Regions from separate parts of the Homo sapiens genome. Here region 2 is linked to region 1. Evidence: fine-mapped expression QTL. Tissue or cell type: aorta. Region 1 holds a variant in brackets; the other region holds the start of a gene. All regions are shown on one strand. Distances are from middle to middle.

Region 1 (4,213 bases):
GTAAAAGCAGTATTGCCATGAAATTTTTAAATTGTAAGTTCCAGGCAGGGCATGGTGGCTGACACCTCAAATCCCAGCACTTTGGGAGGCTGAGGCGGGTGGATTGCTTGAGGTCAAGAGTTCGAGACCAGCCTGGGCAATATAGCGAAAACCCGTCTCTACAAAAAACACAAAAGTTTGCCACGCATGGTGGTGGGCACCTGTAGTCCCAGCTACTCGGGAAGCTGAGGCAGGAGAATCACTTGAGCTCAGGAGGCAGAGGTTGCAGTGAGCCAAGATCACGTCACTGCATTCCAGCCTGGGTGACAGAGCGAAACTCTGTTTCAAAAAAAAAATAAAATTGTGATTTCCTTTAATAAATCAACTAATTAATCATTATTAATCATGTTTTATGTGCCTAATAGTTAAAATACAGGGAGAAAATCATGATATGATTCCTACCCAGAATTTGCTTATATGGGGACAAAAACCAGGTACACTTAAAAATTAGTCAATGAATAATTAAAATATAAATATTTATAAGTTAAGCCTTCAAAATATCTTGTATGCGATAAATACATAGAATTTTATCTGTCAAAAAAAAAAAAGTTGTCAAGTATAAAAATTTAGTGAAAGTAGACCAGCACAGACTGGGAAAACCAGGCCAGTTATATGTGTTCATTGTAACATTCCAGACAGTACAGAATGCACAGTATAGAATTCTGATTACATTCCAAGCAATGTTTTATGAGGGGTGCTGACTCTAAGTGTCCTTAGTGTGTAACCTTGGGCATGGCACCTAATCCCTCTGTAAACTGGAGTTGTTGTGAGTAAATAAGAGAGTAGGTAACTGTAAGAATGTCAGGAATTGCTATGGGCAGTTGTGAGATGATGCTTAAACTCTAAAGACCCCAGAGGCTTGGGGACAGGATGAAAGACTTGTATTTGTGATGCTAATAATTAGTATAATTGGGTATAGAATGAGTTGACTCTTGTTTGAGATGTTTTTCAGAAATATAGGAATTTTTGCATATGGTTGAGGGTGATGATAACTTCTATAATCCCTCCCAGCTTTGAAATTCCCAGGTACATAAATCAAACTTGCAGTCATGAAGAGTAAATGGTAGGCCCCAAAGTGCATGGTTACAGGTGGGTGTTAGGCTGGAAAGAGAGTCCTGGGGCTCTTTTTAGATCCTAATAATAGATGTTCCAGAGAACATCTCTAATTTTAAGACATGTTTCTGCACAATGCTTTGCTTGAATGAATTGAGGTAACAGCAGACCACTTCTTTCCCCATTCCCAATCCTTTAGGTACAGAGGGGAGATTTCTGGAGAAGTGAATGGTTATCTATGAGTTATTACAAAGCCAGCTCTGTGTGGGTTCAACTGCTTTGTAGAAGAGGGATTGATCTAGACACATGAATTGATTTTTTTCAGCATCTCTTCCACCACCGTCATCTTAGGCTAAGTTACCACCATCCTGAACCACTTCAATAGCTTTTTAAACAGCTCACCTAGATTCACTCTGGCTCACCTCTGATGAGTTCTCCACTCAGCAATTTGAATGGCTTCCATACTCCTTGGATAAAAACAAATTCCCAACATGGCCTATAGCGCCCTATATGGTGTGGCCTTTTCTATCATTCTAGCCTCATCTTGCTCTCCATTCTTTCACTGGCTTTCTTTCTATCCCATCCTGGGGCAAATGCTCTTCTCCACCCTCATCCCCATGTGAACTCCTACTCATACTTTAGATGTCAGCCCCAGGTCACCTCCTCAGAGCAGCCTTCCCTGACCAGACTGAAGCTCCCTATTATAGGCTCTCATTTGGCCATGTAATGTGACTTTTCTTTATTGCACCTGTCAAAATTACAATTTCATATTTCTTATGATTATTTGATTTACAGTTTAGTGCATTTGATTCATGTGTATCTCCCCCCAAGTCTTCATAATGTCAGGACAGTATGTCTGGTTAGTCACCATTTTATCCAGTCTCAGCACACTGCCAGGCACATAATTGGCACACAAAAATTGTTGCTGAGTGAATGAATGAACGTAATCTATGATAATATTTTCAAATATCCTATAAAATGAAGTTGAGTAAAAAGTCAAATGACTTTAGAAAACACTTTATACCATATTATTTAAGCCTCCATCTCTACCCCCCACACACATATTTTCATATAAAAGACTGTCAAATCCTGCAGTAAAGAAGCCCTCAACTTATTTGACCACAGGATATAAACCAGGACCTACTGGGGGCAGCACTTCTACTTAAGAGAGACAACTTGGATGCCAATGCTAGTGCTGTTTCTGGAAGCAGCAAATGGCAGGAAGTGTTCTAAATGTGTACTAAGAGAAATTTCCCAAGAATTGGCCAGGCACGGTGGCTCATGCCTGTAATCCCAGCACTTTGGGAAGCCAAGGCAGACGAATCACTTGAGGTCAGGAGTTTGAGACCAGCCTGGGTAACACTGTGAAATCCCATCTTTACTAAAAATACAAAAATTAGCCAGGTGTGGTGGTGCACACCTGTAGTCCCAGCTACTTGGAAGGCTGAGGCACAAGAATTGCTTGAATCCAGGAGGTGGAGGTGGAGGTGGCAG[T/G]GAGCCGAGATCACGCCACTGCACTCCAGCCTGGGTGACAGAGTGAGACTCTGTTTAAAAAAAAAAAAAAGAGAGAGAGAGAGAGAAATTTCCCAAGAGTCAAGCTGCCTTGGGAATCCAGGCAAGTCTAGGATTTAAAATGTTTTAAATGGCGCCACAAGCACAAACAAGTTCTACAAATAGAACCTGCACAGTTAGCTGAAGAATGGACTCTACTCAGCACAGTATGTAGCACAGTAAACATTTGTTTGGTGAATGAATGGAGAGAGAAAGTATCTGGGGTGATCACACCTTAGCTGGTGGTCTCATCTTTTCATAGAAAATACAATTTTATTGTTAAACCTAAAATTCAAGTGTGAGTAGATCTTTATGTGTGAGCATTTTAACTGGCTATGTAGTAAAGAGTGAGGCATAATAAACCTGCACCATTCACAGGAACTTACATACCTAGTAACTGGATTTAAAGAAGTACCATGAACACGCTGAAGACAATTAAATACTGATCTTGTTGGTTTTGTGATAAATGTTTTGTCCATCGCTGCTAATGCTAGGACTTAATATTAAATTCAGTTTCATCAAATCCAATGTTTTCTCTTTCTTTTTCACCCCAGTGCTAACCCTCTTTGATCTTTTGGTATCTTTTTGACAGTGTCACAACTCCTCTTTCTTTAAATTCTTTCTGCCCTTGTTTCTGTGACCTGCACTTTCAATTCAATTTCATTTCAACCAATATTTATTGGTCATCTATGCTGTGCCAGACACTGGACTATCATCATTGGTTTATTAACTCATTCCTCCACATTAATTGAGTTCCTACTGGGTGTTGGGCACTGTGCCAGTGACGGATACAAAGATGAACAAGATGTAGTCCCTGACCTTAGAGGCTGCACAGTGTAGTGAAGGAGTCAGCTAACTATATCATGGAGTGGAGAGGCTGTTATAGAAGTGCACACTCAGGGCCTGTGGCCCTCAGAGAAAGAATCGATTACTTCTCTATGGGGGGAGGGGGTACATCGCATAGCACCATGCCTGGCACGTGCTAAATTTTCAACAAATATTTGTCAAAGAAACAAATAGTCTTCCAGGTGGAGATAACAGCACAAACAGGGATCTCTAGGGAGCCCTCACTAGCTAAAGTAGTGGTTTTCAACACAGTGAGGCAGAGTATTACGTTCTCTGGAGGCATGGAAGGGGATGGTGAAGGGAACAATGTGTATCTGAAGGGGGATTGCATATGAAAAATGTATTCCTACTGTTGCAATTTAACTTATAAATTTTACAAACATGCATATTTAAAACCACATTACATAAAATATTAATTTATAGATTCAATTTTATACATTTATATAACAAGAATGAGAATAAAATTATTGTTTTCATAATATGAATTACAGAAATTAAAGCTCAAACTAGGAAAACTGGATAAATATAGGTAAATATAGAAGTTCCAGAGGTTCTGCAGCAAAACCATTGTCTTCTTGAGGATGGTGGTGAGATTTTTATGTTTAACAAAAGGGGGTGTAGAATAATGGGCTCTGAAGGACTGTATTTTGTAGGTTAAGGTTTGTCAACTGGTGTCAGAATCAAAATCAAAATCACCTGGGGATCTTGTTTTTTTTTTTCCATT
Region 2 (4,243 bases), 68 kb before region 1:
ATTGTTAATCCTCACAACAACCTTGCAAAATATTAGCTACGCTTTAGAGTTTTAGAAACAGACTCAAAGAGAGTAAATTGCCCAGAGTCTACGGGCTTAAAAACTGACAAAATTGAGATTATCACCAAGCCTGCATTTCTGTTCATGTGCCTCTATGAAACATATGTTTGAAGTTCATCTCTGATTACTTTGCTGTCCTCTTGGCCTCTATGAATGACTTGCTGTTCTGCCGCATTTCAAATCTGACCCCAGGCATTAGCATCAGAGTTCTCTATCAATATAAAGCCTATTATAAGACAAAGATGAATAGGAATATATACACACATATATAATGTATTGTTTACATAGGTTAGGCACAATGATTCACTATTATCATTTAAGGAATGGTAGGAACCCTCCTGAAATCTAACTTCCCAGTTGTATATGTTCCTATATGTATATGTGTGTATATATATATTCCTCTGTGTGTGTGTGTGTAAGAAAAATATATATATAGCCTAGCATCATTTCATCCTGTGATTAGAATTATGGATAGCTGGCTCCTTACAGTGGTTTATGCCTGTAATCCTAATACTTTGGGAGGTCAGGATGGGAGGATCGCTTGAGCCCAGGACATTGCAAACAGCCTGGGCAACAGAGTGAAACCCCCATCTCTTAAAAAAAAAAAAAATTAATTAGCTGAGCATGGTGGTGCATGCCTGTAGTCCCAGCTACTCAGGAGGCTGAGGTAGGAGGATTGCTTGAGCTGGGGAGGTCAAGGCTGCAGTAAACCATGATTATGCCACTGACTCCAGCCTGGGCAATAGAGCAGGCCCTGTCTCAAGAAAAAAAGAAATCATAGATAGCCCTGCTTTAAAAGAGCAACAAGCGTGCCACCAAAAAAATAAATAAATCAGTCTTGTTTACTAAAAAATGTTTTCAGGCTGGCCACGGTGGCTTACGTCTGTAATCCCAGCACTTTGGCAGGCTAAGGCAGGCGGATTGCCTGAGCTCAGGAGTTTGAGACCAGCCCGGGCAACACGGTGAAACCCCGTTTCTACTAAAATACAAAAAATTAGCTGGGCGTGGTGGTATGCGCCTGTAGTACCAGGTACTTGGGAGACTGAGGCAGGAGAATCACTTGAACACGGGAGGCAGAGGTTGCAGTGAACCGAAATTGCACCACTGCACTCCAGCCTGGGCGACAGAGTGAGACTCTGTCTCAAAAAAAAAAAAGTTGTCTAGAGTGTATTCATAATTACAAACAGCTCTCTGAAAAGCATTTATTTGCCTTCTCTCTTTGGGTTTTCTCCTTCTGTTGAATGTTTATTTGATCCTTGCCACCAGCATCATGTAACTGCATAATCCTTCCATGCTTACACTTACAGGGCACCCTCCCAAACCACTAAGCTGTCCTTCTGCAAGCACTTTAATCAAAAAGTATTATAGAGTTTGATTTTAAGAATCTGAGAAGCCTCTTGCTTCTTAAAAAGGAACATGCATAAATATGTGCAGATTTTCCAGATAAAACTAAAAACACATCCTTTCGTCTAAAATATACTCTGGTTTAAAATCTGGAATATTGGTGTGGGAGACGAAAGACAATTTCCCATTTGACTTGTTTGTTTTGTTTTGTTTTATGTGGAGGGTAGAGGGAGGAAATGGGAAGAGAAAGTTGAATTATCCCAGTAATTTTCTAGGGGTCTCAGCCTTAACCATTTCCAAAATATAATAAAAAAAATCTCATTAAAATTACTACGAGCATACGTCTTTTGCAGGAGGTGGTTGAGGTAATCAGATCTCAAAAATGCAATTAAAATGGGGTCTGAAACCCCAAATTAGTAACCAGAATCTTTAGTCAATATACAAAAGGCCACACGAATGGGTTGAGCTTACTGAAGATTTCTGTTTGTGGCCCAGGAAATGCCTCTCTCACCACCCATCCAGGAGTTTTATATTCTCCTGTAAAATAAGCATGTTGTGAGAAGTTCCCTGAGGAAATTTGAAGACAAGTGTATGAGAGCTCTGGAGCCCCATCCCCCTGCCCTGAGCATAGTCGCCAAAAGGACTTTCCACTTAGTTTACTTCATGCTTGCTTTTGAGCCTGCGGCAAAAAATTCTACCTTCTGAGTGACTGTGGGTGGAGGGAGGGCCTGAGATGACATCAAATCACAGTCTTTCCTCCTCCCCTCAGGAAGTAAAGTCCACTAGCAGGAGGGCCTAAATCGTCTGAGCCCTCCTTGGCTCTTACAATGCTCACTTGTTTTCACAATGCAGCAAAATGAAATGCCTTAGAAAAAGAGTAACATTCCAGAAAACGGTGTAATTTATTTTTCTTCCTTAATTGCCCCATCTGTGGAGGATTTCTTTGCTGAACACCACATCAAAGGTAAGATGGGAATGGGACTGTGTGCTGGGTTGGTTTTCTAACAACGACTGGCATCTCTCCCCACCCAGCCTGCTCACCAGATGGCCATTCCGCATACCCTGCCAGCTGACTTTCCTTTCCAGTTAGAAACAGTCAGCCTTCGACCCGACAGGGGAAATAATGAGTACTGTTCCCCCTTCCTCAGAACATTTACATTTTCTTTTTGCTATCATTCTTTATATACACTTGTTTATTTTACGGAACCGATTGGGAGAAGGTAGCATAGTGTCATGTTACTCCTGAATACTTTAGCATGTATCTCCTAAGAATATTCTCTTGTGGAAGAGGTTCCAAGAGGTTAACCTTGGTACAGTATTCTGTATTATACAGTCCATATTCAAATTTCCCCAACTGTCCCCACAAACTGTCTTTTACAACTTTTTTTTCTGATCTAGGATATATTCAATAAGCGGGTATCGCATTTCGTTGTCATGTCTGTTTAGCTCCAAAAATATTTACATTTAGCAAGTGTTTTCTAAGGAGAATTCCTAAACTCAAGGCTCGCCTTCCCTTTCTATTTCTCTTAAGAGTTCACCCGGAGGACCAGCAGGGTGACGCACAGCTTCTCCAAGAAACTGGCTTGCAGACCTGGGGGGAGGGACACTGAGTACAGTTCTAGGAGTGGCCACCCCACAGTCACTGAGATCAGGCTTTCCAGGTAACTAAGTCCTTAGTTGCATCAGGCAGACTTCATCTGTAACTGAGGGGTTAAAAAAAAATTACAAGTGGTTTTATATCATAGGGAAAGAGGTTTTTTTTCTGTTTTGTATTACATTTCAACTTTTATTTTAGATTCAGGGGGTACATGTGTAGGTTTGTTACAAAGGCATATTGTCTGATGCTGAGATTTGGAGTATAATTGAACCCCTCACCCAGATAGTGAGCACAGCATCCAATAGGGAGTTTTTCAACCCTCCTCCCTCCCTATCTTGTAGTCCCCAGTGTCTGTGGTTCCCCTCTTTATGTCCATATGTACCCAATTTTTAGCTCCCACTTATAAGTGAGAACATGCAGTATTTGGTTGTTTCTGCATCAATTTGCTCAAGATAATGGTCCAGCTGCATCCATATTGCTGGAAAGGATATGATTTTGTTCTTTTTTATGGTGGCTGTGTAGTATTCCATGGTGTCTATGTATCACATTTTCTTTATCCAACCCACTGTTGATGAGCACGTAGGTTGATTCCATGTCTTTGCTATTGTGAATAATGCTGCAGTGAACATAAAAGTGCATGTGGCTTTTTGGTAGAACAATTTATCTTCCTTTGGGTATATACCCAGGAATGGGATTACTGGGTCAAATGGTAGTTCAATTTTTGGTTCTTTCAGAAATCTCCAAACTGCGTTGCACAGTGGCTGAACTAATTTGCATTCCCACCAACAATGTATGAACGTTCCCTTTCAGATAAAAAGTTTAAAAGTTTAGATTAGTTTCTGGTCCACTGAATCAACTGTCTTGGATTTATCACAGGGATCTTCTGCATTTAAAATAGAAGAGGCATCATGCTGAAGAGGGAGGGGAAGGTCCAACCTTACACTAAAACCCTGGATGGAGGATGGGGATGGATGATTGTGATTCATTTTTTCCTGGTAAGAATTCACTTTTTTCCCCCTTTCCTATTGCCTAAAAGCAGGCTTTCTGGAGAAAGGCTCAGAGCTGCCTACGAATAGGATCACTTAGGAAATCTTTGGCATCTGAGTGGAGGGGTGGGCAGGAACAAGGCCAGGAGCTGCCAAAAACTGCTAAAGTCAGAGGCCCATGCCGAACCCAGGAGAAAGTTGAAAATGCCCCTAGAGCAAAAGCAGAAATGTTCCTGGGCTGGGTGTGGGGGCTCAC

Which allele goes with the higher level. Alleles are on the strand shown, and positions count from the first base shown. SD is a standard deviation of normalised expression in the study named.
For the expression in aorta of the gene that starts at base 2,207 in region 2, G is the low allele of the variant in region 1 and T is the other (small effect, 0.26 SD a copy in GTEx).

Evidence for each region. PIP is the estimated chance that this variant, and not a neighbour inherited with it, causes the effect.
Region 2: SLC16A4 starts here. The variant in region 1 is the best candidate, but not a certain one, in a credible set for the expression of SLC16A4 in aorta (GTEx, PIP 0.69).

The regions. Positions count from the first base shown.
Region 1 is chr1:110,321,386-110,325,598 of GRCh38, reverse strand. All of the region lies in intron 1 of RBM15-AS1 (RBM15 antisense RNA 1), which reads left to right. Among named protein-coding and RNA genes, the nearest start is that of RBM15-AS1, 16 kb to the left of the region's middle. The variant T/G (reference allele first, on the strand shown) is at 2,587.
Region 2 is chr1:110,388,990-110,393,232 of GRCh38, reverse strand. It overlaps SLC16A4 (solute carrier family 16 member 4), which reads left to right and starts at 2,207. Exons shown (of 9, transcript NM_004696.3): 1 at 2,207-2,368; 2 at 3,878-3,996. The coding sequence starts at 3,910.